4 linked regions of the Homo sapiens genome follow. The protein of the gene in region 4 interacts with the protein of the main gene of each other region in a pairwise test. Each region holds a gene or a part of one and is shown on either strand. Other genes may lie near its edges.

Region 1 (7,970 bases), on a different chromosome or scaffold from region 4:
CACATCCCCGGGACTCTGCCTCCCAAGTTCCCATCGCTCACCAGCAGGTCTGAACAATACACACCAGGTTGTGCTGGGCCTGCAGCTCGATCTCCAGGGCGTTGACTGTGCGTCTCAGCTCGATGATCTCCGCCTGGCAGGACTGCAGCTGCTCTGAGCTGGATACCACCTGCTTGTTCAGCTCCTCGGTCTGAAACACCCAAGTGGGGAAAGGATCAGACCCTGTCTCCAGGGCCCTGGGGCACCTCGGGTCCTGAGTGGCCATGTGCTTAGATGCCCACCTGCGTGGCGAACCATTGCTCCACTTCCCTGCGGTTAATTTCCACCAGAGCCTCATACTGACTCCTGGTCTCGTTCAGGACCTGGTTCAGGTCCACAGTGGGGGCAGTGTCCACCTCCACGTTGAGGCGGTCTCCAAGCTGGGAGCGCAGGGTGTTAACCTCCTGTTGGAGAAAAGGGAAACAATGAACCTACGGCAATGGATCTGCCATTTTCCTGCTCCAGGGAAATGAGCACAATACTGCCCAAAAAGCACTAAAAGGAATATTCTGATCATTCCCAAAGAGTGACACACACATTTTATAGCAATAAACTCCAACAGGGATCACATCAATTGCTGTCCCATGGAAGATGTGCCATCTTCCTGCTCTGGGAAAATGAGCTTGATGCTGCCCAGAAAGCACTAAAAGGGGCCGGGCACAGTGGCTCAAGCCTGTAATCCCAGCACTTTGGGAGGCAGAGGCAGGTGGATCACGAAGTCAGGAGATCGAAACCATCCTAGCCAACATGGTGAAACCCCATCTCTACTAACAATACAAAAATTAGCTGGGCGTGGTGGCATGTGCCTGTAATCCCAGCTACTCAGGAGGCTGAGGCAAGTGAATCACTTGAACCAGGGAGTCGGATGTTACAGTGAGCCTAGATCACGCCACTGCACTCCAGCCTGGTGACAGAGCATGACTCCGTCAAAAAAAAAAAAGCACTAAAAGGAAGATTCTGATCATTCCCAAAGAGTGACACACACATTTTATAGCAATAAACTCCAACAGGGATCACGTCAATTGTTGTCCCATAGAAACGGAAACAACCTCACACCTTCTACAAGACTAAGTCTAAACTCCTTGGCATATGCAAGTCCTTCCTCGCTTCCCATCACATCTTCACTTTCATCCCTTGGAGGTACTGCATGCCCAGCCATACCCAGATACACCCTGCCCTGCCACTTCTGTGTCTTTGTTCAACCTCTTCCCTCAGACTGAAACACCCAAGTACTGGAATCCTCCTCTTTGCATCTGAGAAGAGTTCCCTATCTCCTCTTGGGCAGCCTGGATTATTTCTAGAGCATACTGCTTGTACATCTCATATGGTACTTGTTTCACTCTGTCTTGTTTATATCACTGTGTTTATATGACTGTCTTTCTATACTAGACTGTGAGCTCTTTTAAGAAAAGGGCCATGTCTTATTTCTTTTTTGTCCCTCCATCTCCACCACCAAATTCAGGACCTAGCAGTGATCAGCAGAGAGCAGGGCTCAATGAATGATGTCCCTCCTCAGTAATTCCAACACCTGCCTAACCCTCACCCAGCCGCTGAAGAATGAGCAGCTCACTCCACTCCTTGATATGGATGTAGCACCGTCACTCTCTGAGAACATCTTGAGTTCCTCAGAGAAGGGTCCCAGACCAGGGATCCAGACAGTAATCCTCTCCTGATTCCCAGTGCTAGTAGCTTAGTTCTGAGGCCTGCTTTTGTGAATTTGTTTCATACCTCCTCATGGTTCTTCTTCAAGCAGATCAGCTCCTCCCTCAGGGACTCCACCTGGGACTCCAGGTCAGACTTGCAGAGGGTCAGCTCATCCAGGATCCTGCGTATGCTGTTGATGTCCGACTCCACCAACAGCCTCAGGGACTGCTCCGTCTGGTACCTGCACGTGTCGGAGTGGGAGGATAAGTCAGGAAAGAAAACCACCTTCCCCTCTCATGTGTTGTTTGGGTAGAATTGGCCTGAATCTTCTTGAACTTACAGTTTTCTGCCTCTTCTCTTCCATATGCTTCAGTCAAGCTGTCCATGGATAGGCTGAAGAGGTTCCCTGACTCACCTAACACCACGAGGAGCCCACAGGCACACATGAGATGAAGTCTCTCACTGTGTTCTCGGTTTTGTTAGCTAATATACCACCAAATCAATTCCCAAAGAACAATTCATTTCAATCTCTGAATTTTGTGGTTTAAGAAACACTTCCAAAAAAAACCAGTATAGACCAAAGAGCAGGCAGCACATGAGTCTAGTTCCCTATTTGAAACTAATTTTACATAACCAGCCCTAGGAGGAGAAATAGAGAGAAATGGCTTTCTCCTCTCTTCCAGGCAATAGTAGGTCCCTAGGGCCATGAAAGAACCATAGGGACCTTGAAGTTCAACATACTTGCTTCTGAAGTCGTCAGAGGCCAGCTTGGCATTGTCAATGTTCACCACCAGCCTGGCATTCTCAGCCTTGGCACACAGAATCTGAAAAGAAATTTCTCTCATGAGGTACACTTGAACTTGAAAATGTCTTACTGTTCAAAGAGAGCCAGCTGCTGCTGGCCCCCCATATGGCCAACCCCCTCACCTTCTGCTGGAGCTCCTCAATGGTCTTGAAGTAGGACTGGTAGCTGGGGCACAGCAAGGGCTCCTGCTGCTGGGACCGCTCCTGGATGAGTTTCTCCAGCTCCGCGTTGTCCCGCTCCAGCTGACGCACCTTCTCCAGGTAGCTGGCCAGGCGGTCGTTCAGGAACTGCATAGTCTCCTTCTCGCTGCCATTGAAGGAGCCCTCACAGAACCAGTTGCAGTTGCTCACATTGGCGGGGATGTTGCAGGCCCCAGGCAGGGTGTAGCCGTGGCAGCTGGGGGGCACGCAGGGCCGGGAGGAGCAGCTGGTGCGGCAGCCCAGGCTGGGCAGGCAACAACTGTAAGACATGGTGCTGGAACAGGTAATGGAAAAGCAGGTAAGCTGCTGGAGGTGGATGTGGGCAGGTTTGAGTCTCTCCTTCCTCTGCAGTCCTTTTATACCATTAATTGTGGGTGGGGGCTTGGCATACAGCATAGTTTCCTTTCCTAATGCTTCAGCTAATTTTTCTCCAAAATATGCTAGTTAGATGCTTCTAAAGAGTCCCCCCTCAACCCATAAAATTATTCCATTCAGCTTATGTCACACCAGGCTCTTCCTGGGTGCTAGTGGTTGGTGAAATCAGAGTTTCATCAGATGGCTTCATAGGAGATAGAATCATCACAGCCCCAAAAGGCTGTCTGCATTACTCAGAGGGGAGGACAGCCAGGGACATGGGGTGGAGTTGTTTGGGAATCAGGGATTCCTCACCCAGGAGTTTCCGCCACTGTTCTTTCTCCCCAGAGAGAGAGCTCTGAGAGAGAGCTTTGAGAGTTACTCTTCCAAGTAGCTCTTTCCTCCCACATTCATCCATGTTTCAGCATTCAATTTGTTTTTATAGCAGAAACTCAACCTGTATTCGCCGAAATGATCCTGAGCCTTACTATTCGTTGGGGTTTAGGGAACTTGCCAACACATGGAGCAACTGAAAACAATGGCATGTTCATGGTTGAGAAATGAGAAAGTAAAATGGAAACCAATGGAATGGATGGGAGTATACCTAAAAGAGGGCATCTGCAAATGGCAGCCCACACGTCAAGTTTACCCTGCTGAATTTTTGTAAATAAAGTTTTTGTTTGTTTGTTTTCTGTTTTTTTTTTTTTGAGACAGAGTCTCACTCTGTCGCCCAGGCTGGAGTGCAGTGGCACGATCTCGGCTCACTGCAACCTCCACCTCCCGGGTTCAAGCAATTATCTGCCTCAGCCCCCCGAGTAGCTGGGATTACAGGTGCCCGCCACCACACCCGGCTAATTTTTGTGTTTTTAGCAGAAATGGGGTTTCACCATGTTGGCCAGGCTGCTCTTGAACTCCTGAACTCGTGATCCGCCCGCCTCGGCCTCCCAAAGTGCTGGGATTACAGGCGTGAGCCAATGCGTCCGGCAGTAAATAAAGTTTTAATGGAACACAGCCATGCCCATTTGTTTAGCTATTGTATATGGCTGCTTTTGTGCTACAGTGGCAGAGTTGTGTAGTTGTGACAGAGACTATAGTGTCCACAAAGCCCTAAAATTAAAAAATTTGCCAACTTGTACTAAAGCAACAGCCTCTCTAAAGATGAGCAAGAGTAGAAATATCTAGAAGAAAAAATATGCTGGAAACAGTCTGGAGCAGTGAGAGTTCAGATGGCAGCACTGAAGCATGAATATGAAGCATAATACTGCAGACTCACCAAGAAACGAAAATTGGAGCAAGGGTGCTCAGAGGTATCTTTGTATCCATGGTGGCTTTTTCTCAAATTCTCTGGAAATTTCTATCATCTTATTTCTAGACTTGTTCCTCTTTCTAGAGTATTAACTCTCCTAGAGGTATGACTATGCCAGCCTGAGATGCTTCCAGGACAAGCCACAGTGCCCATGAGAATGCAGATTTACTCTGTTGTCCCTACAAGTAGACACTGTCTCTGATAAGTGTGCTTCTATCACCTCTGGGATCCAGTTACCCTTTGACTCTTGCATAACCTAGGGAGCCTCTCTATTGCCCAATAATCACTCTTCACAGAATAGCCTTCCCTACCTCACTTCTTTTCCCTGTCACTCTACCTTGCCTTTGTTCCGCAGGGAAACAAAGTCATGTTTCAGAAAGAAGTCCCAAAAGATTATTTGTGGAACACAATACAAATCATTTAAAGAAGGCTGCATCTGAATTTCAAAAGCAGCATGAGAGGAGCAGAAAAGCACATCTTCGATTTTATTTATTTGAGTGTTTCCTCTTTTTTTCTTAGTCTATCTAGAGGTTTGTAAATTTTCTGTGTCTTTCAAAAAAACTCTGTTTCATTGATTTTTTGCTATTGTTTTTCTAGTCTCTATTTTTATTTATTTCTGCTCTAAGTTTTATCGTAAGTATCATAATAAAATTTAGAGCAAAAAGTGTTATTATATCCTTCCTGCTGCTAACTTTGAGCTTAGTTTGTTCTTTATCTTTTTTAATTTTTTAATTTTTGTAGGTACATGGTAGGCGTGTGTGTATGTTTAGATATAGGTTTATGTATATACATATATAAAACTTTCCTCTTAGTACTGCTTTTGCTGCATCCCATAAATTTTGATACGTTGTGTTCTCATTTTCATTTGTCTCAAGATATTTTCTAATTTCCTTTTTGATTTCTTCTTTGACCCATTGATTATTTAAATGTTTTTTAATTTCTACATATTTGTGTATTTTTCAGTTTTTTTCTTATTTCCGTTCTAGTTTTCTAGTTTCATTCCATTGTGGTAGGAAAAGATACTTAGTATGATTTCAATCCTCTTAAATTCGTTAAGACTTGTTTTGTGACCCAACATATGATCTATCCTGGACAATGTTCCGCATGCACTGGAGAATATGCATTCTGCTACCATTGGATAGAACGTGTTATTTGTTAGGTCCATTTGTTCTATAGTATTGCTCAAATCTGTTGTTTCCTTGTTGATTTTCTATCTGAATGTTCTATTCATTATCAAAAGTGAGTTACTGAATTCTTCTATTATTGCATTGTCCATTTCTCCCTTTGGTTCTGTCAATGTTTGTTATATATATATTAGGTGCTCTGATGTTGGGTTCATATATGTGTGCAATTGTTATATCTTCCTGGTGAATTTTTTCATTATTATATAATGTTCTTCTTTGCCTTTTGTGACAATTTTTGACTTAAAGACTATTTTGTCTGATATATAAGTACAGCCATCCTGCTGTCTTTTGGTTACCATTTGTACGGAATATTTTTTTTCCCATTCCTTCACTTTCAGCCTATACATTGTCTTTAAATCTAAAGTCAGTCTCTTCTAGATAGTATGTAGATAGTACTTGTTGGTTTTTTGAAAATCCATTCAGCTACTCCATGTCTTTTGATTGGAGAGTTTAATTCATTTACATTTCAATAAATTATTGATAGGGAAAGACTAATATTGCCATTTTGTTAATTCTTTTGTCTTTCTCAGAGTTCTTTTGTCTCTCTTTTCCTATCTTGCTGTCTTCCTTTGTGTTGCATGGATTTTTGTATCGATATGTTTTTATTCTTTTTTCTTTTTCTTTTGTGTATCTTCTATAGGTATTTTTTTGTGATCATCATAGGGCTTATATGAAACAACTTATAACTGTCTGTTTTCAGCTGATAACTTTCACTGCATACAAAAACTACTCTTTTGCTTCTCCCACACACATCTTTTATGTATTGATGTCATTATTTACATCTTGTTATATTGCATATGCATTAACCTATTTTTATAGTTATAGTTATTTTTAATACTTTTATCTTTTAAATTTTATAGTAGAGGGCCAAGTGTGGTGGCTCACACCTATAATCCCAGCACTTTTGGAGGCTGAGGAGGGCAGATCACCTGAGGTCAGGAGTTCGAGAACATCCTGGCCAACATGGAGAAACTCTGTCTGTACTAAAAATATAAATATTAGCTGGGCGTGGTGGCAGGCACCTATAATCCCAGCTACTCAGGAGGCTGAGACAGGAGAATCGCTTGAACCCGGGAGGCGGAGGTTGCAGTGAGCCAAGATCACACCACTGCATACCAGCCTGGGTGACAAGAGTGAAACTCTGTCTCAAAAATAAATAAATAAATAAATAAATAAATAAATAAATAAATAAATAAATAAATTTTATAGTAGAATTAAAAGAGTGATTTACCTACCACCATTATAGTATTACAGTAGTCTATATTTATCAGTATATTTACATTTACCAGCAAGTTTTATACTTTCACATGCATTTATATTACTGTTTAACATCCTTTTGTTCCAACTTAAAGAACTTCCTTTAACATTTTTTGTAAGGCAGGTCCAGCGATGATGAACTACCTCAGCTTTTGTTTATCTATAAAAGTCTGTATCTCTCCTTCAGTTTTGAAGGATAATTGTACTGGGAATGATATTCTTGGTTGGCAGTTTGTTTGTTGGTTGGTTGGTTTGTTTTCAGCACTTTAAATATATTATCCCATGTCCTTCCGGCCTGCAAAGTTTCTGCTAAGAAATGTATTAATTACCTTATGGAGGTTCCCTTGTACATGATGTCACTTTTCTCTTGCTGCTTTCAAAATTCCCTATTTGTCTTTGACTTCTGACAATTCAATTATAATGTGTATCACTTTGATTTATCTGAACATCTTATTTGGGATACACTGGGCTTCCTGGATCTGGATGTCAATGTTCTTTCTCAGGTTTCAGGAGTTTTGAGCCATTATTTTTTTTAATAAGTTTTCTAAACTTTCTCTCTCTCTTCTCCTTCTGGATCTTCCTAATGTGAATGTTGGTCTGCCTGATGATGTCCCATACATCTCTTAAGCTTTCTTTACTCTTTTTTATTCTTTTTTCTTTTTGTTCCTCTGGATAATTTCCAATGGCCTGACTTTGAGTTCACTGATCCTATCTCCTGCTTGATTTAGTGTGCTATTGAATCCCTCTATTGAATTTTTCAATTCAGTTATTGTATTTTTCAGCAGCATGATTTCTGTTTGGTACTTTTTGTATTTTCTGCCTTTTTGTTGAAAATTCTCACTTTGTGTATTGTTCTTCTGGCCTTGCAGAGCATCTTTAATTATGGTTATTTTGTTTTTGTTTTGTTTTGTTGAGACAGAGTCTCGCTGTGTTGCCCAGGATGGAGTGCAGTGGCATGATTTCGGCTCACTGCAACCTCCACCTCCTGGGTTCAAGCATTTCTCATGCCTCAGCCTCCTGAGTAGCTGGGATTACAGTTGCGCACCACTGTGCCCAGCCAATTTTTATATTTTTAGTAGAGATGGGGTTTTGCCCTGTTGGCCAGGCTGGTCTCAAACTCCTGACCTCAAGTGATCTACCCACCTCGGCCTCCCAAAGTGCTGGGATTACAAGCATGAGCC
Region 2 (6,941 bases), on a different chromosome or scaffold from region 4:
ATGCAGTGTATAAAAATAAATGAAATAGCTGTGGGAATGGAGGTGTAAAAGGCACACAATTTGCTGCTATTGCTATCTCCTCTGTTTGCATAATAATATTTGGATACTAATCTCGACATTGCGGCTGTGTTCCTTTTTGCTTTTGTCTTCTTGCATTCCTTATGTGTCCCTGTCTTCCCTGCTCCCTTGGCCAGGAGCCTATGTCTGAGTCCTGACAGTCACAGGTGCTTCCCAAGTATATTGGAATGGAGTGGCCCTGTGGTGACAGAGAATGCTCCCTGTGTATATTAAGGCACCTGGAAAATTTGTCCCTTAGGGATCTGGGAGCTCTAGGCATGCTGGCCTCGATGTTCTCACCTCTATTTCCTCTCTGCTTTCCCAGATTCCTGCATGGGTCCTGAAGGGATCACCTGGTGGTACAGGTTAATTGTCCATGTAGTGCCTGGATGGACTTTAGTTTGCTTAAAAAAGTAAGGCCTGGAGAATCAAGGTATAATATAAAGAGAGGCTGTTATGAGGCCTTCACAGGAGGTATCTCTACTAGGAAGCTCATGAACTAGCATTTTCACAAAAAAGAAAGAAGAAGTGGGGGAGGGAGGTGTTGGAGGATGAGAAAGAGGTCTCAGGGCTAAGAGACAGGTATTAATGGCCTAGGGAGCTGTGTTAGGGGTGAAAAAGGAAGTGACAAAAAGATTAAGATGGAGAGGGATGAATGAGACCAGAGTGAGGCAGGACAAGTAAGGTGCTGAGCAGAAGGTGGTGATGAGAAGCAGGGGAGGCAGAGGGTCAGAAGCCAGGAGAGAGGCCAGATTGAAGAAAAGCACCCAGAGCCGACCTCCTAACACTTGTGGTAGCATCCCTGCCCATCCTCCAAAAGCCTCAGGCTTGGACGGGGCATTCAGTGGCCATGGTTCCATTTCAAAACAGTCATCAAGCCCAGCGCTTTTATCTTCTTGCTGAGATATCCTGTCTCTGCTCCTCTGCACAGCCCCCTCTGTCTCCCAAAATCAGGCCTGTTCTTGCACCTGGATTCTTACTGTACCACCTATCAAATCTCCTGGCTTCCCTCCTAGCCTCCTGCAGGCCATTCTGCACATTAGAATCACCTGAAGCGGGGTGGGGGGGTTGATTCTAATTAATTCAGATGCTCAGATGGTACCCCAGACCAATAAAATCAATGTTTGGGGGGGTGGGGATCAGGCATCAGTAATTTTAAAAGATCCTCAGGTGACTTCAATGCACAGTAACGTTGGGGAGCTACTGAGCCTAAGGCATTTTCCTAAAGCACCAATTTTATCCCTTTCCTGTTGAAATGGGCTCAGAGGTTCAGTTGCTGTTGCACAACTGAACAACAGGTAGTTGAGAGAGGAGTGTGGACACAATTTTCCATGTTTTAGGATTTCTAGACTTGCATCGAGAATCCCTGGATTTCCTATTTATGCAAACACTATGAGAGGGTCATGGGTGGAGAGCTATGTTTGTTAAGCATCTACTAAATGTTTAATTGCAAGATGGATAATATCTTTCCCCTGAATTCACCAAACCTTTGCTCACAGAATTGCTTTTCCAGGCTTGAAAGCCTTCAAACTGGCCTTCCATTTTTCTGCCTCTTCTAATCCTGTCATCTTATGGTGCTGTCATCTTTCCGCTTCTAAGAAGTGTGCTCTTACTACTTCAGACTCCCCTCATGTGTGACATAAAAAGACTGGTTTGGTAGAGCAGGTGAGGATAATGTAGGACCTGATATGAAGGGTTAGCACTCCAAATGAATAATTGAGACCCTAAGTACTATGACTTCTGGATGGGAAAAAGAAGGTAGTAGGAGTTCATGGATGTATGGGGTATTTATATGGTCCGCAGGGTCAAAAGTGCCCCATAGAAGTTCTTTCTTTTCCATTAAAAGTTACAGGTATTAAGAGTTCATAGGAAGAGAAAGAGCAATTTATATTTTTATATCACATACAGATTACAAAGCACATACATTAATCCTTATATCTACAATATCATGGGGGGGGTATTGTCTCCGTTTTGCAATACAGCATTTTAAAGTTAAGATCCCAAATTTTAGGTTCCAATCCTGACTCTGTATCTTTCCAGCTGTGTGATCCTGGGGCTACTTAACTTCTCAAAGGATCAGTTTCCTCATGGAAACAGTGGACTTAGGGTGAGGGGTTAGCTGGGGTCATGCATGAAGTGCCTGGCAAGTTCCTTAAGCACTAAGTATTAGCTATTACTGTTTTGTACAGATGAGAGAGTTGGGGTTCAGAAGAGTGAAGTGCTCATTTACATAGTTAATGGCGCTTAGATTTGGAGCTCATGGTCTACATACATAGTGACCATTTAGGATACAATTAATTGCTACAAAATTCTTGGCTCCTCCTTTTAGATAAAGAAATGAACTCAGAGGCTCACTGGCCTGCCCTGTAGACTTCACAGCTGGCAAGTGGTCCCTAGTTTTCATGACCCAATGCGGCCCCACATCTGGTGCCTGGCACTTACGAGGTATGGATGCTCCTGAGGCGGCCCTTGTGGAAAGTGATGATGGTATTGCGGCAGCAGCGGCTCTCATAGTAGTAGCAGTTGAGATTGCTGCTGGCTGTGCAGCAGCACTTACAGTTGGGATCATTGGCCCAAGAGCAGCAACACCAATGGCAGTTGGGGCTCTCAGAACAGGTGCAGTGGCAGAACTGGCAGTTCCGCTCATCTTTGTAAGGGCAGGGGAAGCAGGTGCAGTTCCGCTCTGAGGTGAAGATGAACTTGCAGCACAGACAGGAGCATAACTGAGGACAACATCTCTGCCATGTACAACATGGACAGCAAACGCACATAGCAGTTTCCATGGTGCCTACATGATTACCACCGGCCTCCCAGGACTCTTGATGCCTCCTCTACCAGAATACTGCTATCAGTTCTCCAGTGGAGGAGTCCTTCCTCCCATTCCTGAGGCCGTCAGCTTGAAAGTTGCAAGAAGTTGGCTGTTATGAGGACTTCACAGCTGGTGTCCCTACCAGGAAGCTCATAGGCTGGCATTTACATATATCAGTCTGAGGGTATTTGCTTATGTCACAATCCCTGTCTCTCTACCATGCTAGGTAGATAGCAGGATGCGGCCTTGTGGGTGGTAGCTGGTATGTTGGTGGAAACTCCATGCTTCCATGGAACCAGCTGTAGAGGAGTGGTGATGCAATGAGCATCCTGGAAGTTTAGTTGTCATTTGTCACCTTTTGGATAATGGAGTAGATTTCTGAAGCTATTTCTCCTTGTTTGGTGTTCTGCCTGCAATTTGGACAAGTGGACTTCAGATTATGTCTTCGTAGACTGAAAGGCTTGGGTATGGTTAATTAGAAAAGTAGATTCACATGGTTTTCCACATGTTAGAGGAATTGATAGAATTCTATTTGAACAAAGGACAGTGTTTACAAATAATAGCAATGCCATATTTAAAGAGATATCACCATTCAGAGAAAGAGTTAAAGAAAAAAATATATAGGTTCACTTAGGAACTTCTTTCAGTAGTAATTGATTTTATCAATCAATGCATAGTCGCTGCTCATTTTCATGAAGCTTTATACTTAAGTCACTCTGAATATTTCTTGGGTTTTTTGTAGCTGCATGGTGTTTGGGTGAGGTTCAAGCTTTCTGTCTTTTCCCCATCCTACCCCCACTCCAAAAAGAGGCTGGAACTCTACATTAAATCTTTAACTGTTCTGCTAGTATATGCTCAGTATTCCTAGAAAAAAGACCCTATATTTTAGGGAAGAATTTCACCTTCCCATTTAAGCAGCTTGCAAAGATTAAAAGAACAGAAATTTCATGGTCATAGTACATTATAGTATGAATACTGTCTTGTTTTTAGAAAAAGAAGCAGAAGTGAGAGCTGAGTTTAGCTGCAGGAATTTACTGCATAATTTAGTATCTCCCCCTATGGTTATCACCTTTATAATAGAGAAAATCACTGAGTGCCAACTATGCCAGCCACACATTGATATTAGATTTCTACAAGTGAAAATCCCGGCTCTTAGGGTATGTCCTTTATCTTTTTTTAAGGCAAACTGCTAAATTTCTTACTCAAATAAATGTGCCAGTTAATACCAGCAAGGAACATACAACATTCAAAAAAGTGAAACTCCTTTTCCTCACGTTTGCCAAAACTCAGTTTTATCAATCTCTCTCTCCATCCTCCAGGCACATAGGTTAGAGTTTCATTCCCAGATTTATGATACATTTTCACTATTGGTTTCTATAAGGTCTTATTAAAAACTTATTAATATGTAATTCACTTACCATTAAAGTCACCATTTTAGAGTAAACAATTAAATGGTTTTCAGTATATTCATAAAATTGTGCAACTCTCACCATTATCTAATTCCAAAATATTTTCATCACCCCCGTAAAACACTCATTAGCAGTCTCTCCCTGTTCCTCCTTTCCCTCAGCCCTTAGCAGTTACTCTACTTTTCTGTATTTATGGATTTGTCTATTCTGGAGATTTCATATAAATGCTATCATATAATGTGTGGCTTTTGTGTCTGGCTTTAATTTAGTATAATGTTTTCAAGGTTTATCTGTGTTATAGCATGTATCAGTATTTTTTTATGGCTGAATAATTTCACATGGATATACCACATTGTATTCATTGTCAGTTAATGGACATTTAGATTGTTTTCACGTTTTAGCTGTTAAATGTTTAAATGTTTCTGTGAGCATTTGTGTATACATTTTTTTTGTGTGAGCATTTTTGTAGAAATATGTTTCCAGTTCTTTTGGGTAGGTTCCTAGGTGTGGGATCATATGGTAACCCTATGTTTAACTTTTTGAGGAAATGCCAAGCTGTTTTTCAAAGTGACTGCACAATTTTACATTCCCACCAGCAATGTATGAGAATTACCATTTCTCCACATCGTTTTCCAAACTTCTTGTCTTTTTTTTCTTCTGATTATAGCTATTATAGTAGGTATAAAGTAGGATCTCTTTGTGATTTACATTTGGATTTCCCTGATGGCTAGTGATGTTGAGAATCTTTTCATGTCCTTATAGGACATTTGTATGCCTTCTTTAGAGAAATGTCTATTTAAATCTTTTGCCCATTTAAAAATGGAGTTAATATCTTTTTATTGTTGAGTTGTCAGAGCTCTTTGTATTAGCTAGATACTAGACCCTAACCAGATATGATTTGCATCTATTTTCTCCATTCTATGGTTGTCTTTACATTTTTAAATGGTGTCCTTTGAAGCACAAAAGGTTTTAATTTTGATGAAGTCAAATTTATCTCTATTTTTTTTGTAGCTTGCCCATTTGGTGTCATTTAAGAAACCACTGCCCAATCCAAGGCCATGAAGATTTACACCTATGTAATCCTATAATAAATAGCTTTATAGTTTGAGCTCTTACACTGAGGTATTTGAATTATTTTGAATTGTTTTTGTATTTGGTGGGAGTTAGGGGCCCAATTTCATTCTGTTGCATGTGAATATCCAATTGCCATAGCAACATTTGTTGAAAAGACTATTGTTTCCCATTGAGTAGTCTTGAAACCCTTGTTGAAAATCAACTCACCATAGATATATGATTTATTACTGGACTCTGAATGCTATTTCTTTGATCTATATGTCTATCCTTGTGCTAGCCACACCATCTTGATTACTGCAGCTGTGTAGTATGTTTTGAAATTGGAAAGTGTGAGTACTCCACTTTTGTTTCTGTTTTAACATTATCTTGTATTTTCATATAAATTTTAGGATCAGCACTACTACTTTTTGTGCAAAAGTCCACTAGAATTTTGATAGCTATTGCATTAAGTCTGTGGATAAATTTGGGGAGAATTGCCATGTTAAGTTTCCTGATCCACGAACACAGAATATTTCACTATTTATTTAGGTCACCTTTAATTTCTTTCAACAATATTTTGTAGTTTCCATTGTACAGGTCTTGCACTTATATGGTTAAATTTATTCCTAAGCATTTCATTCTTTTGATGCTACTGTAAATAAAATTGATTTTCTTTATATTTGGATTGTTCATTGTTAGTGTGTAGAAATACAACTGATTTTTAATAGGGCCATTTATATTGACTTCTGTGTATATCTTGCAACCTTGCTGAAATCACTATTAGCTCTATTTTTAAAATTTATTTTAAAGGGTTTATATATATAACTTTGTGTTATCTGTGAATAAAGATATTTTCAGTTTTTCCTTTCTAATTTAGATGGCCCTTTTTTATTTTCCTTGCCTAATTTCCCTGGTTAGATCTTCAAGTACAATGTTAAATAGAATTGGCAAGAGTGGACATCCTTGTGTTGTTCCTAATCTTAAGGGAAAAAATTTTAGTTTTTCAACATTAACTATGGCATTCGCTGTCGGTTATTTACAGATGTCCTTTTATCAGATTCAGTTGTATTATTTGATTTTCATATGCTGAGTCAATTTAATAATCAAATTAATTATTTGATTTTCATATGTTGAGTCAATTTTCTGTTCCTGACATAAATCCCATTTCATAATGATGTAATTTTATATTTTGTTGGATTTGGATTGCTAGTATTCTGTTGAGAAATTTTTTAACAGACTAAGACAATATGATTTATTATTCTGAAGTAAATATACGGTTTATAAATATACAGGAACCTGTGATTCCCATCAAGTTCCTGGTAGGAACAAAATGGCACTCAAATTAATTTGTAGAAAAATTGGTTTCTCTTAAATGCAAATCAAAACCACAATGAGATACCATCTCTCACCAGTTAGAATGGTGATCATTAAAAAGTCAGGAAACAACAGGTGCTGGAGAGGATGTGGAGAAATAGGAACACTTTTACACTGTTGGTGGGACTGTAAACTAGTTCAACCATTGTGGAAGTCAGTGTGGTGATTCCTCAGGGATCTAGAACTAGGAATACCATTTGACCCAGCAATCCCATTACTGGGTATATACCCAAAGGATT
Region 3 (8,000 bases), on a different chromosome or scaffold from region 4:
TAAGCAGGCAGCTCATGTACAAAGCTGGTTCATCAAAGATAAACAACAACAAAAAAATTTTTCATATACTTTCTATTAAGCAGGGCATTCTAAAAATTCTAAGACAATTCCGGCAAAACAATAATTGATAGAGCTATAATGAGATTTGTTCCAAGAGCTTAAATGTATAAATATGACCTTTAAATTTTTCAAGCATTAACAATATTTCCATCAAGTTCAAATACATTCAATCACACTTAAAATTATGATTATAATCCTTTTGATGATCCATGGCTTCTCTCTCATACATCAGTAATTATACTTTAATCCATTATCTACTTAGAAATTTCATAAATATTCAAGTTCTGTACCCCCAGGCGAAAATTCACTCAGGTACTAAGTTAAATTCTCAACAAAACAACAACAAAACATGTGTGTGTGTGTGTGTGTGTGTGTGTGTGTGTGTGTGTGTATATATAATAAAAACCAATCTGTGGATTTAATGGAGTTGATGGCATGTATTGGGAAAAAGACTACAAAGAAGATTTAACTATGATGCTCATGGAATTTACAATTTCAAAAGAAATTCATGAAGCATATTTACAAGGAACAAACATACGTGTACTCATCCATTCAAACCTTTCCTGAGCATCTGCTATGTTCTTGGCATGCAGGGAATGAAGAGGCAAATCAGACCCGATGTGTTGCCTGCTGTCAAGGAGATGTCATGACAGAATCTATGCGATATTTACAGTAATACCATGGGAGAAATTAATTGATTTCTGGAGAGGGCAAGGGAGTGGAATGAGAGAACAGAGCAGAAAAGGCTTCAAAGAGTATAGGCTTAAGTATTTTTAAGGAAAAAATTTCATCACAAGGATCACCTGTAAATCAGCTCGCTGGGAAATAAGTATTTATACTGAAGAACTAAATTCAAGTCAGAGCAGTGATAAGAGCAAACGAGATGGACAGATTGCTCCAGAAGACTGAGTTATGTATCCTACAAAGTTATGCTACAGGAAAAATGAAAAGGCTTCAGAGTCATAAGATCTCAGTTAAATACCAGTTTGGCTGCTACATTTGTGAAATTAGTTAATTTCATTTCTAAATAAAAAATGTTATAATGCCATTTACTTGACAATGAAGCAAAACTAAAAGAATTTTTAAGAACAACAGAAATTGGCAATACAGCCTGAGCAACATGGCAAAACCTTCTCTCCACAAAATTCAAACAAAAATTAGCCAGGTGTGGTGATGCGCTCCTGTAGTCCTAACTACTCAGGAGGCCGAGGTGGATCACCTGGGCCCCGGGAGTTTGAGGCTGCAGTGAGCGGAGATGACACCACTGCACTCCAGCCTGGGCGACAGACAGAGACCCTGTCTAGGAAAAGGAAAAGGAAGGAAGGAAAAAGAGAAAAAAGGAAAAAGAAATTGACAATCAAATATGAGCAGAAGCTGTATTTTTAGATCTAAAAAGTAAAATTCTCCAAGAATTTGGGGTTTTAGGGCTTACTGTATTTGTGTTTAAGAGCCTTTTCAGTTCATTTAACAGAATTTTAAAGCAAGATGTCTTTATTTAAAAATCATTTAGATTCATTTACTGAGGCTGAATATTTTCTTCTGAAGCTTAGTCACTATACTAGTTTTATTTAGAGGCCGATTACGTGTGCTTTCCAAATAAATAGCTTAATACCATTCATTCCCCGTGTGGTCGGGACCCAAAGAGATTATAATGAAGCCTTCGTTAATACTGAATTAACGTGAAGACCCCACGAGCTGCCAGAGTATTTAAAAAAAGTAAATGCTCAAAACGCGGTAGGCATTCACCCTTAAGAAACTAAAGGGAGGGGAAAAAAACTTCAAACTGTCAAGATCACTTCTTATTCTTAAGAGAACACATGCCTTTAAGACTCTCAAAGTTTCTGTCTAAATCTTTCTTTAATGAGTCTCTTCAGCAACGTACTACACAACACGACAAAGAAGGCATTTATCAACAACGCGTTTTGTGAGTCTATGAATTACCGAGGAGGGCTTAGGTGTCTGTAACCTTCATACCCACTTCCACCGCACACTCAAGTTATTGCTGGAATGTACGGAGAGCACACAAGGCTATTCAAGCAACACCGGCAGCGCGCTCTCGGCCTTCAATCACATTTTTAAAAAGAAAAATAAATTCGTCAAAGGATCATAAAACTTGAAAAGGCTCCAAATAAATAAACCATCGCTTCTATCAGAGCAAGTTCTGCGGGGCCATTTTCGTCTCCCAAGTGACATACAAATATGTAGTTCAGGTCATAAGGTCCCCGACACGCAGACCCTGCAAACTTTTCGGCCAGAAATTTGTCGCGACCCTGAGACGCCCCCGGCCGTGTCCAGGACCCCCGTCCTCAGGCCCCACAACTTCTCGCCCGGCCTCGGGGCTCCTTCCCGCGTCCGCCGGCCCCCGCCCCGCAGACCCGTGGACCGGACCCTACCCGGCGGCCCCCGTCCCCCCGCGGCGGCGGCGGCGTCCTACGGGCGGGCGCGGCTCGCTCCCGGGCTGGCGGGACGGCGGCGGCAACTGGCCCGCGGGCCGGCCCCGGCGCGAGGGGAGCGGCCGGGAGCGCCCCGTTTCTCACAGACCCCAACATGGCGTCGGCCGCCACCGCCCGCGACGACGACACCTCCCGGCGCTGCGACGGCTCCGGGACCGCGGGAGGAAGCGCCCGGAAAGTTTCGCGTCTCCCCTCCCGGCCCGTCAGGAGCCGGCGGACCACCCACCCGGGCTTCACCTACCCCGACGGCCGCGGGCGGCGGCGGCGGCGACAGCGAAGGCGAAGGTCCGATCCTCCTGGTCGCGGACGCAGGGCGCGGACTCTGCCCGTTCCCCGCCGGGGCCTTCCAGGGTGTGTGCTGTCCGCAGCCCCGCGCAGCCGGCGCGATCCAGACGCGGTGGGCGGGCTGGCCGCCAGCGCAGCCGCTCGCAGGTGACTCCCCCGCCCCTCCAGTCGAACCCGACAACGGCTGCCTGGGCTGGCCTCTCCCCTGCGCGCGCACGGGCGCGCCCCCGTCCACACTCCGGGCGCGAGCGCGCGGGCACGAGCACACCCACACCCCTCGCTCCCCGCCCTTTCTTGCCAGTTCCCTCGCCCCGCCCCTCGCGCCCCTCGCGACGCGCTCTAGGGGCGGGGCCTTTGGCGGAGGCCACACCCACTCAGGCCGGCCGCGGGCGGAGCTTGTCCATGTGTGAGGTCGGGACGCGCTCCCGCGACGCGTTGAGGTGCACGTGAGGCGCCTTACCTGACTTTCCTGACTCCGACCAGCCCTTAGAAAGTATTGCTCAACTGTCTACGAAGTTCTTAGGGAGACTGGAATAATAGAAGGAAGACACCTCCCCACCCACAACAGGCCTCCCCGGGGAACTGAAGAACGAGAAAGGCAGGCTTTGGATCTAAATGCCCAAAGGCATCGGTACTGGCATTTGCTGCTCCCATTTAGCACAGCAATCCTTTCCGTCACACTTTCCCTTTGCTTTACCTAAAATCCCTCCTCTTGAAACCAAGGGAACTGCGGCGACACACACATACCCTACGTGCTCCACCCAGCCCTTTCTTTTAAATGCATACTTTAGAATTCTGGTCTTCCCAAAACTTTGACGACACAAAACCCCATCAGCCTACTTCACATACCTAGAAACTGTAATTATTGCATAGTATATAAGGTTAAATGTGCCCTAATTGATCTGATAGCTAAGCGCTCTGATGGGTTCGTAGAGAGGTAACGAAGTTGCTTAGGGTAGACTAGGGATGGGGGCGAAGTAGGGAGAACAGCATACTTATTTTAAACAAAGTGTGTGTGGTGTGTAGGAGGAAATTGGGTTTTGGTAAATTTTATATTTCTTATTCATCTATTACTTCAGTAAGTTGTTTTAACCTGTGTTTGATTGCTGTTGAATTAGAGTCACTACCAGCCAAGCTGCACGTGGATGAGCACCTAGGGATGAGAGCAGACTTGGGTTCCGCCCTGCTCTTCCACCTGGGATCTTCCTCCTCCAGGCTTGTTGCCTCCTATCCTCCCCTATTTCAATAGAGTTTGTCTCTGAAACAAACAAGTCTTTTTTTAAATTAATAATTAGAACAAAATTGGCAAAGATGAACTTTTTTTAAATGGGGAAAATTGTATGATCACACACACACAATCTTTCGTGTGTTAGAGTTGTCTCTAGATGAGTACAGATGTCACCAGGACGCTTGTCCGTACCATCACTCTACCTCATTCACCTCTACGTGCACAGCAATATCTATCAGTGGGGAAAAGGCAGGACTAAATAATGCCTAAAATCCTTTTAAATTTTGAAAGTAGGAATTGCTATGTCTGACTGGTTGTCTAAGGTCAAGCCTAGAGCATTAGTTATCAAATATTTTTGGTCACTCACATTAGTAAAAATGTTTGCCCTCCTCACTTCCCATGTACTTATTTAGCTTAAGTAAAGTGCATAGATAGAAGCCAGAATGACTGTAATCAAACATTGGCTTTGTCTCTAACAACCTTGGCACATCCAAAGATAACTTTGGTTTTTTCACTTGTAAAATGGAGATAATAAAAGTATATCACAGAGTCATTATGCAGATGAAATGAATTAATATATGTAAAGCATATACCTGGCACACAGTGCTTTACAAGTGTGAAATAAAATTATTACATACATAATATACACATTTATATAGTGCTACGTAAGTGTGAAATAAAAGTTGTTACATATGTAATATACCCAGCTACTCAGGAGGCTGAGGCTGGAGGATCACTTGAGGCCAGGAGTTTGAATCCAGCCTGGGCAGCATAGCAAGACCCAGTCACACATACACACAGAATTATATGTATGATATATATAGTGTGTATTTATATACACACATACACCTATTATAATATACCTAGTATGTTAGGTACATTAAAAAACAACATACACACACAAAAAAATCAGAAATAATGATTTTAAATATATATATGTATGTTTTCTTTCTGTACTCTTCATAGTCTATGCCCTCCCTGGGCTGCGTGCACCCCAGTTTGGAGACCGTTGATTTAGATCTGTGCTAACAAATACAGTAGCCACTAACCACATGTCTTAATTAAATGTAAATTTATTTAAATTAAAAATTTAGTTTCTCAGTCACACTGACCACATTTCAAGTGCTTAATAGCCACATGACTATTGGACAGTGCACATATAAAACATTTCCATCATTGCAGAAGTTCTATTGGATAGCACTGACCAATCTGGAACAAAGCAGGGAACTCAAAAGTCACTGAAAGGAAGTAAGATTCACTCCTACCCGAACCTGTAATTGTGGTACCCTGTTCAAGTCAAGTGATAAGACAGCTCTTTGAGCCTCACATCTCAACCGTAAAATGAAGATAAAAATAGGAATTACTGGCCAGACACGTGGCTCACGCCCAGCCCCATCCTCCCACCCGCCCAATTTTTTTTTTTTTTTTTTGAGACAAGAGTCTCACTCTGTGGCCCAGACTGGAATATAGTGGCGTGATCTTGGCTCACTGCAACCTCCACCTCCCAGGTTCAAGTGATTCTTCTGCCTCAGCCTCCCAAGTAGCTGGGATTACAGGCATGTGCCATCATGCCTGGATATGTTTTGTATTTTCTTTTTAGTAGAGACGAGTTTTCACCATGTTAGCCAGGCTGGTCTCAAACTCCTGACCTCAAGTGATCCACCTGCTTCAGCCTCCCAAGGTGTTGGGATTACAGGTGTAAACCACCACACCCGGCCTATAATCCCAGCACTTTGGGAGGTCGAGACAGGAGGATTGCTTGAAGCCAGGAGTTCAAGACCAGCCTGGGGAACATAGTGAGACTGTGTCTCTACAAAACAATTTTTAAATTAGCTGGGCACTTGGAGTCCCATCTCCTCAGGAGGCTGATGTGGAAGGATTCCTTGAGCCCAGGAGGTCAAGGCTGCAGTGCAGTGCAGTGAACAATGATCCAGCCACTGCACTCCAGCCTGAATGATGGAAGGAGACCCTTTCTCTTAAAAAAAAAAAAAAAAAGAAAGAAAAAAAAAGGAACTTCCTCATAAACTGCTGAATGGAGGAAATAAGATAATGTGTAAAGTGTATGACACATTGTTAAAACATAGAGGAACTTGAAAAGATTAGTAAAACTTGAGTTTATATTTCCCCAATTTGTTTTTTTAATTTTTTACATTTGAAAATAAGAGATTGGGTCTTGCTTTGCTGCCCATGCTGGATTCAAACTCCTGGGCTCAAGGGATCCTCCCTCTCAGCCTCTTCAGTAACTGGGATTACAGGCATGCACCACCAAGACTGACTAACCCGATTCTTTAATCCTGAAAGGCAAAAAAGATCACGTTATTGTTCTTGAATCTAACGTGTATCTTGTAAAAGTGAATAGTTTGGTTAAGTTTTAATTGAAAATAGAACATTCAAGAAATGATAGGATGGCAAATACCTGGATTTTAATTACTCCTTGATTTCTTTGTCCCCTCCACTTTTAAAGGCTGGTCTTCTCCCAGTTTTGCCCATCTCAGTAAAACGGCACTGCCATCCACAAACCTGATGAGCCATCATCCTGTCATCCTTTTTCCCATGTCCTCCATCCAATCTCTTTATCTCCAAAATATTGTAGGATCTACCTTCAAAACACTTTATCTCATCTGTTCTCCTCTCCTCCTGGCCCCTCCACACAGGAGCCACACAGGATTGTGTCACTCCCTGAAGAAACATTTCCATGGCTCCCCACAGAGGCTGCCATATAGAATTGTACAGTTGTGGTAGAACAACCCTATGGGAGAGTGCATTCACATTGGAGGCACTGGAAATTTAATATTTATTATGAATATTTTCTGGCAGATTTTAGTGAAATGACTCATTCTAACAAAATTATCTTACAACAATTTTCCAACAAGATGGAAATCTAATTTGCCCAGACATGCCACATAGAATAAGAGCGTTTCTCTTTCACTTAGTACGAAATACCAGCTCATCACCTGGTTCTACAAGACCCAGCACAATCCAGCCCCTGCCATCCCCTCCAACTTAAAATGATGCTACACTCCACCAACTGCCATTCACATTGACCTTCCATCATTTCCTAAAATAAATCAAGCTCAAAAGAGCTGCTGTGGCGCTCACTGCCCTGGACACCTCTCTACCTGGATAGTCACAACTCCACAGTCTCTGCCCTTCACATAGCTGCGGCTCCTTGTCATGTTTCAGTCCTCTGAGAGGCCTTTCCTGGACACTATGTCCTCAGTTACTCTCAGTCACAGCCCTTTGCTTGTTTCCCTCACAGAACTTACAGGTCTCCCTGGAGTCTGAAACCTGCATGAGGCCAGGGACCTCATTGTCCTCTCCTTTCTACCCATAGGCCCCAACAGGAGCATGTGCCAGCTTGTCAGTTGTCAACTCGGCATGATTGCCACCCCCTTCTACATTCTCTTCTGTACCTATAGGGAGACAGCCTAGCACTCTATTTTCCAGAGAACTTACTCTAAATGTTTCCAGGTTAAATTCTGCCAGTGGAGACACATGTATAAGGATTGAAAGGCAGAAGAAAAGCAGAACCCGTCATTCTCCAGTTGCTATGTTCTGAATGTTTGTGTCCCTCTAAAATTCATGTGCTGAAATATAATCACCAATGGGTTGGTTTTAAGAGGTGGGCCTTTGGGATGTGATTAGTTCATAAAGATAGAGCTCTTGTGAATGGGATTAGTGCCCTTAGAGAAGAGACCTGAGAGAGCCTGTGTGCCCTTCCACCACATGAGAACACAGTGAGAAATGTGCCATCTGTAAGGAACAGGCCTTCAGCAGACACCATTTGTTCTGGTTCATTGATCTTGGATTTCCCAGCCTCCAGAACTGTGAGCAATACATTTCTATTGTTTATAAATTACCCAGTCTAAGACATTTTGTTATAGCAGCCCAAATGGACTAAGATACCAGTATAAATTTGAACATGCAGCTCAAATCCTAAGGGGCTATTTTCCTGAACTTCTGGGAAAATATTA
Region 4 (7,022 bases):
CACCACGCCCAGCTCATTTTGTATTTTTAGTAGAGACGGGGTTTCACCATGTTGACCAGGCTGGTCTCGAACTCCTGACCTCAGGTGATCCACCCACCTCAGCCTCCCAAAGTGCTGGGGTTACTTACAGGCGCGGGCCACCGCACCTGGCCTATTTTATTTTTTTTGAAACAGAGTCTCACTCTGTGTGTGGCCCAGGCTGGAGTACAGTGGTATGATCTCGGCTCACTGCAACCTCCGCCTCCCGGGTTCAAGCGATTCTCCTGCCTGAGCCTCGCCACTAGCTGGGATTTCAGGCACACGCCACCATGCCTGGCTAATTTTTATATGTTTAGTAGAGACAAGGTTTCACCATTCTGGCCAGCCTGGTCTCAAATTCCTGACCTCAGGTGATCTGCCCGCCTCGGCCTCCCCACGTGCTGGGATTACAGGCGTGAACCACTGCACTCGGCTTGATTTTGTATTTTAAAATGCCATGTACTTTTTCTTCATTCTAAAACCACCGTCCTTTCAGTTAAAGATATTTCATGAGCCTCACGGATACACTCTTGTTCAGTCCCCACAGGATAGCTCCCCGAGCCTGTTTTAGAAATTTGAGTGGAGTTCAGTCATTTGAATAAAAAATATGGCATCCAACACCCCAAGAGAGAGAATCCTTGCACTGAATGCGTTCTGTTTGTTTCACACTTTTTAAAAGTAACTCCCACGTTTGCAAAGTGCTATTGAAGGGGATGGAGTGGATGGGGCGGGGCTGGAGGGGGGCTGCCTTCCCTCACGGCCGTTCTCTCCCACAGGGGACTCGCTGGCCATGGATGTGTCCTCAGTCCACCACAACAGCACACTCCTTCGCTACTCCGTGTCCCTGCTGGGCTACGGCTTCTACGGGGACATCATCAAGGACAGTGAGAAGAAACGGTGGTTGGGTCTTGCCAGATACGACTTTTCAGGTAACTCAGAATAATGCAGACTCGCTCCCCGCTGGTCGTGCCCCGACTGCCTTCACAGATGTTACCTGACTGAATCCACTGAGCACCGTCAGAGGTGGGCCCCCACCTGCTCACAGACGGGAAGCTAAGGGCCTCATGAAATGTGCCGGGGCCAGAACGTGGCAGGGTCTGGACTGGAACCTGGATTGCTCTAAACCAGATCCTGCCCCCTGGACCCAAGCATAAGCCACAGAGTAGACACCATGACGGACGCAGTTCACTCCAGAACCCCAGGTGCTGGAACCCCAAGACGCCAGGCCACCAGCCTCTCACATCTGGTAGGCAGGTGACAGAGGCCACCCCAAACTGTTCAAGTGGAAGTATTAATTGGAAAAAAAATAGTTTTTAAAATATATTTTTTAAAAATTTTTTTGAGACACAGTCTTCCTCCGTCACTCAGGCTGGAGTGCAGTAGCACGATCACGGTTCACTGCAGCCTTGACCTCCCAGGCTCAAGTGATTCTCCCACCTCAGCCTCCCGAGTAGCTGGGACTACAGGCACATGCCACCGTGACCAGCTAATTTTTTTTTTTTTTGTATATTTTTGTAGACAAAGGGTTTTGCCCTGTTGCCCAGGCTGGTCTCAAACTCCTGAGCTCAAGCAATCTGCCCACCTCGGCCTCCCAAAGTGCTGGGATTACAACCATGAGCAACCATGCCTGGCCTGTAAAACAATAGTTTTATAATCACTCTGAGCTTATTAGTCAAAGTGGCAAGAACTTTGTGCAGAAATTCAGCCTGGGATATCTGTGTGGAAGCTCTTCTGTAACTTCAGGCACAGGTATCCTTTACTTCATTCAACAAGGTTGCGTGGTTTTGTTGGGGTTACACCGTAGCTAGCCATACAAGTGAGATACACTCAGCACGTATTTGTTGAGCCCCTGCTCTATGCCGGGCCTGGTTTTTGAGGCAGGGACGTGTCCATGAACAAAACAGGCAAGATCCTGCCTTCCTGCGGCTCGGCCGCAGTGGGCACAGAGGAGGAGGAGTGGGAGCGAATGCCACGCCGCACTCCCTGAAGCCCAAAAGCTTTCATTCTCCACAGTGCTCTTCTCACCCCAGCAGGTGCTCCTGCCCCACTTTATAGCGGAGAAAACAGGCACAAAGAGGTTGCCCGCATCCTGCCTCACTCTTTCTTGAGCCCAGTGGTCCTCAGACTGTGGTGGGCACCTGCATCCTCTGGAGGGCTTGGTAGAACCCAGGCTGCGGGGACCCCCCAGAGCATCCAACACGGCAGGTCTGGGTGGGCTTCGGAACATGCAGGTCCTCCAGGCTCCCGGGGCTGCTGCTGGGGCCTCGGGCCAGGCGGCGGTGACCTGTTACCCGACCACAGAGTTTAGAATGAACCAGAAATGAAGGCTGGTGCCAGTTCAGACACAAGAGTTGCAGTCTGCACACATCAGGCAGTGGGTGCGACGTCACCAGCTTTTAAACGCTGGAAAAGGAGAACTTTAAAAATACATAGAATTGGCCAGGGGCAGTGGCTCACGCCTGTAATCCCAGCACTTTGGGAGGTCAAGGCAGGTGGATCACCTGAGGTCAGGAGTTCAAGACCAGCCTCGCCAACATGGTGAAACCCTGTCTCTACTAAAAATACAAAATAAGTCAGGCATGGTGGTGCACACCTATAGTCACAGCTCCTCGGGGGGCTGAGGCAGGAGAATTGCTTGAACCCGGGAGGCAGAGGCTGCAGTGAGCTGAGATCGTGCCACTGCACTTCAGCCTGGGCAACAGAGCGAGACCTCTGTCTCAAAAAAAAAGAAAAGTAGAATTTCAGCCTGGGCGACATAGGGAGACCCCATCTCCACAGAAATTAAAAACAAAATTAGCCGGGCACCCCAGTTACTCGGGATGCTGAGGCAGGAGGAGCCCTTGAGCACAGAAGGTGGAGGCTGCAGTGAGCAGAGATCAGGCCACTGCACTGCAGCTGGAGCGACAGCCAGACCCTGTCTCAAAAAAAAAAGAAAAGAAAGAAAGAAGAAAATATGTAGACCATGAGGTGTGCCATTCTCGCTGCCCGGTCGACTTTCCCGCCTCTTTACAGTTCGCTTTCAGATAAATCTGTATCAAATTAAATCGAGTAATTCCTGATACTAAAATCTTAACCCTTATGAGAGAAAGAAATAGTGATTTGGCAAACTTTACGAAGCTTGAAAAGATTTAATGAAATTAAAAACTAGTGTGGCTTGAAAATTAAAACCTAAGAAATGGCAAAGTGAGGTATTTATCTAAGGCTTATTAAGAAAGGGAATACCGAGAAAATTAGAGAAGCCGCGAGAATTTTAGGAAGCGGTTTGGGTTGTGCCATTCTCCCGACTGCCCTTTGTTGAGCCCAGTGTGGCTCTGCCTAGAATGCCCCTGGGATGCCCCCTCCCTGTCCCTGCCTGCTGGGGTGGGGTGGTGGGCAGCCCCCCTGCATGCCTGGCCCCCCCCTTTGCCCTCAGCCCATCACCACAGGCAGTGGCTGCAGCTCTGTCCCTCCCACCAGGATGAGAGCCCCGAGGCAGGAGACGCCTTCCGGGTCTCTGGATCCCCATCCTGGCCACAGGGCCTGAGATGCTCTCAGGAAAGCGGGTTTGGGTTCTGTGGCTGTGAGGCAGAAAGCACCCGGTTGTTCTGGAGCAGCACAGAGGGCATGGAAGGAGAATGAGCGTGTGGAAATGACACACTCTGTTGAGACACGTGGAGTTTTAGGTGCCGGTAGGACATCTGGGGCCCATCTAGGGGCAGACAGAAACCGGGACATCAGATGTCGGTGAGGCGCCACCCTGGAGGCTGCGTCTGGGTGATGAGGCAGCTGCCCCCCTGCCCCCTGCACTTGAGAGAGGAGCCGGCTTGGAAGGTTGCTGACCAGTGGGTCGGCCTCCTCCCAGGGCCGTGGACACGACGTCCTTGTGGGACCCCCATGGGAGGAGCAGGGAGAGAGGCCAGAGCCACTCTGCAGGGAGGCGGAGCTGCAGCCACCTGGAAGGGCCCGCCCGCTGAGTGCATTCCAGGCACCTGGCCCATGCCAGGTGCAAGACCCACAGACGGGGCTGTCCTAGGGACAGTCGGGAGCTGACTTTCAGGCACACAGATGTCCTAGGAGCCAGACTGCTCTTGCCGGCAGCTTCCCCCACCCCTGGGCGGTGCACACTTGGCTGTGGGCTTGCCATCTGCGGATGAGGATGTGAGGCCTCTGTGTGTCGGGGGTAAGGTTGTGTGTGACGGCCCTGCAGGCCGTCACTGCCACACCAGATGTCATACAGGGCAGCACCAGCCCCAGCATCAGACACGGAGGAGTGAAGTCGCCCTGAGACTCACAGGACACGGCCTGGCTCCTGGTGTGGCCCACGACACCCTGGGGCCCCTCTCCTGCCTCCTGCCCAGTCCCTGCTGTCCTGCTGGGTGGTGTTTCCCAGACAGCCCGGGTGCCAGGCTGCTGGCAGCCCCGTGGACAGCGCACACGTTTGCCTGGAGGGTGGCCCCAGACTTTGGGTGGCAGCGGCCCTGGCCTCTGTCCTGAGCTGTTCAGGACGTCACAGGGGCTGTGGCTGACCCCAGTGGGGGCCAAGCCCTGAGGCAGGTGGGGGCATCACTGACCCTCATGAAGAGGTGGAGGGGATGACCCTGAGCCACTGGAGCCCACAGGCCACATCATCGAGGCTATGAGGGGTGGCTAATGGCAAAGGCCCCACTTTGCCAGCGTCAAGAGTGGCCATAGCCCTGGCTGTCCCAGCATCACTGGGTGTCAGAAGGCACCAGCACTATGACTAGACGTGCTGTTGTCCTGAGGGAGGGCAGAGACCCTGCCACTGCCTTCAATGGTGACATGGCCTGAAGCAGGCCCGGCCTCTCCCTCCTGCAGACGGTTTAGGCAGATGCGCGCTCAGCGACATTTCTGAAGCTGCCCAGCACAGCATCCTAACCAAGCAATGACCCTTGTGGATGTTTTTTCTTCACTGCACTCTGTTCCCAGGTTTAAAGACCTTCCTCTCCCACCACTGCTATGAAGGGACAGTGTCCTTCCTCCCTGCACAACACACGGTGGGATCTCCAAGGGATAGGAAGCCCTGCCGGGCAGGGTAAGTGCATTGCTTTGTGTGTTTCTCTTGCAAATGACGGGAAATGAAGCAGGACGGTTAGGAAGGTGAATGCAGAAGTATTTTCCAAATGTGGTGGAAGGTGCCGGATGTAGCGTGCCCAGACACACGATGCCTATGATGCCCATGATGGCCTAGGCGTGCATGGGGCTTGCTGTCCCCATCTCTGTCCCCATGGCCTGCGCAGGCAGCTGCTGCTGTGCCAGGGATGAGGACTCTGGGGGAGGGTCCCACACCCACTGTTGGAGTGGGGGCTGAGCACAGGGTCTTTCCCTGCTGGGGTTCCCTTTACCCCCTGCAGGGGCCTGATGGAGGAGAAATGCAGGCAGGAAAGGATGGCAGACACCTTATCAGTGACTGTGCGTGTGCAGGGCACTGGTGGCAGGACCGTTGGTAGAGCTGGCTGAAGTGTGCACTCTCAGCAGCCACCCTCCTGTCCACACCCCTGGCTGAGACCCTCACCCATGTTAGCCCCATGCTCCAAGGCAGGAGCCCACTCTAAGGTTAGCAGAGCCCAGGCCAGCCACGCCTTCAACCCCACAGGAAGGCAGGGACCCTCAGCAAGAAGGCTCGGGCTGGCAACAAGGGCTGGTGCCAGGGGTTGGGGGGCAGAGCCAGGGCAGCTGCCCAGGGAGAGGGGATGCAAAGGGAAAGAGGCGCCCCACCGGGGAGGGGAGGCTGAGTGCAGACAACACAGCTGGAAACGCTGCGCTCTCCCCTTACATTTGGTCCCCCAGTTTGGCCACTGCAGGCTCTGCAATGGTGGCTACGCCACTGAACAAGCAGGGACTCCTTTCACCTGGCATATCTCCGCCCCCACCCCCACACAGTGTATTCAGTAATATGCGACCAGTGTAAATAGAACCTTAAATAAATCTAAACATAGTTGTCCCAGGCCGCATGACCTCCCTAGTGACCATGGAGGGCGCCTGAATGGTCATCCTGTCTCTGCTCTGCCTGGGGCTGAGGACACGGGGCTGTGGAGACAGCTGCGCCTTTGTGAAGGACACTCACGTCCTTTCCTTTTAAGTCATGCAGACTTCAGAACCTCCTTCTAGCTCCTTTCCTTTTTTAAGTGAAGAATTGGAGACCATAAAATCAGAATATGTAGAGGCAGATGCTGTTTGCGTCAGTGCATTAAAGAACTCGGCTGCTGATGAGCGATTTCCATCAGTGCAAACAGTGTCCTGTTTGACAGCGTGAATCCGGCAGCCCCCAAGATCAGAAGGACGTGCTAGACGAATGACTAAGTTCTAAGCTGATGGTTCTGAGTTATTTGCTTGTTATTGACTGTAACAGATAAACCCTGTATGATTTGTTTTCTGAAAGTAAATGAGTCCTCACCCCAGGAGTCCGCTGGGGGAACCAGTGCCTCAGTCATTTCTCCCAGCCAGGCTATGTTAGCTGGAGGGCCAGGCAGAAACCGTCTCCAGGTGGCACCTCAGCGTCCTCATGCTGTGCTTCTCCTCATGTCCAAACCTTTTAGAGAAGGACATGTTGAATGTGTCATTGTAAAAGTAGGTCTCATTCTGAAACCTCTAATTAATATGCCAAAAAATATTTTGTTAAGCCTTTGAAATGGAATTTTTTCGTATGTGAAAAGAATGTAAATACATCTATATGTGCCAAGCATACGCACTGCACCTGCAGCTCCATATTTAAAAGGTGATGATATTCTTGTCTTTCAGATGCTTTGTTTGCAGGCAAAGCAAGCAGCAGCTGGAGGAGGAGCAGAAGAAAGCACTGTATGGTTTGGAAGCTGCGGGTAATTCCTAAAACACAGGCTCAGTGTTGTCACTGTGTGTGCTGGAGTGCGGGTTTCTGTCCTCTCTCAGGGCACTGCCTCTTCTCCCTGCCCACCTGTGCTTTTCCTTTTTCCTGTCTGGCACCAGGCATCCATTTCTTCTTAGCCCCAGGCAGCGTCAGGTCACTGTTACTTGCCGTGTGTGGCTGT

Evidence for each region.
Region 1: the proteins of CERK (region 4) and KRT34 interact in binary tests that used the Homo sapiens proteins (3 or more experiments, as listed by UniProt).
Region 2: the proteins of CERK (region 4) and TRIM42 interact in binary tests that used the Homo sapiens proteins (3 or more experiments, as listed by UniProt).
Region 3: the proteins of CERK (region 4) and PLEKHF2 interact in binary tests that used the Homo sapiens proteins (3 or more experiments, as listed by UniProt).

What each region holds. Positions count from the first base shown.
Region 1 is NC_000017.11:41,379,289-41,387,258, forward strand, and holds the start of KRT34 (keratin, type I cuticular Ha4), read right to left. Parts: upstream 3,019-7,970; 5' UTR 2,963-3,018; coding exon of another isoform or gene 2,959-2,962; coding exon 2,611-2,958; intron 2,508-2,610; coding exon 2,425-2,507; intron 1,925-2,424; coding exon 1,768-1,924; intron 444-1,767; coding exon 282-443; intron 191-281; coding exon 65-190; intron 1-64.
Region 2 is NC_000003.12:140,674,129-140,681,069, reverse strand, and holds the start of TRIM42 (tripartite motif-containing protein 42), read right to left. Parts: upstream 3,007-6,941; 5' UTR 2,841-3,006; coding exon 2,500-2,840; intron 1-2,499.
Region 3 is NC_000008.11:95,128,785-95,136,784, reverse strand, and holds the start of PLEKHF2 (pleckstrin homology domain-containing family F member 2), read right to left. Parts: upstream 3,001-8,000; 5' UTR 2,755-3,000; intron 1-2,754. UniProt on the Homo sapiens protein: May play a role in early endosome fusion upstream of RAB5, hence regulating receptor trafficking and fluid-phase transport. Enhances cellular sensitivity to TNF-induced apoptosis.
Region 4 is NC_000022.11:46,693,238-46,700,259, reverse strand, and holds part of CERK (ceramide kinase), read left to right. Parts: intron 1-794; coding exon 795-947; intron 948-4,944; coding exon 4,945-5,050; intron 5,051-6,756; coding exon 6,757-6,833; intron 6,834-7,022. UniProt on the Homo sapiens protein: Catalyzes specifically the phosphorylation of ceramide to form ceramide 1-phosphate.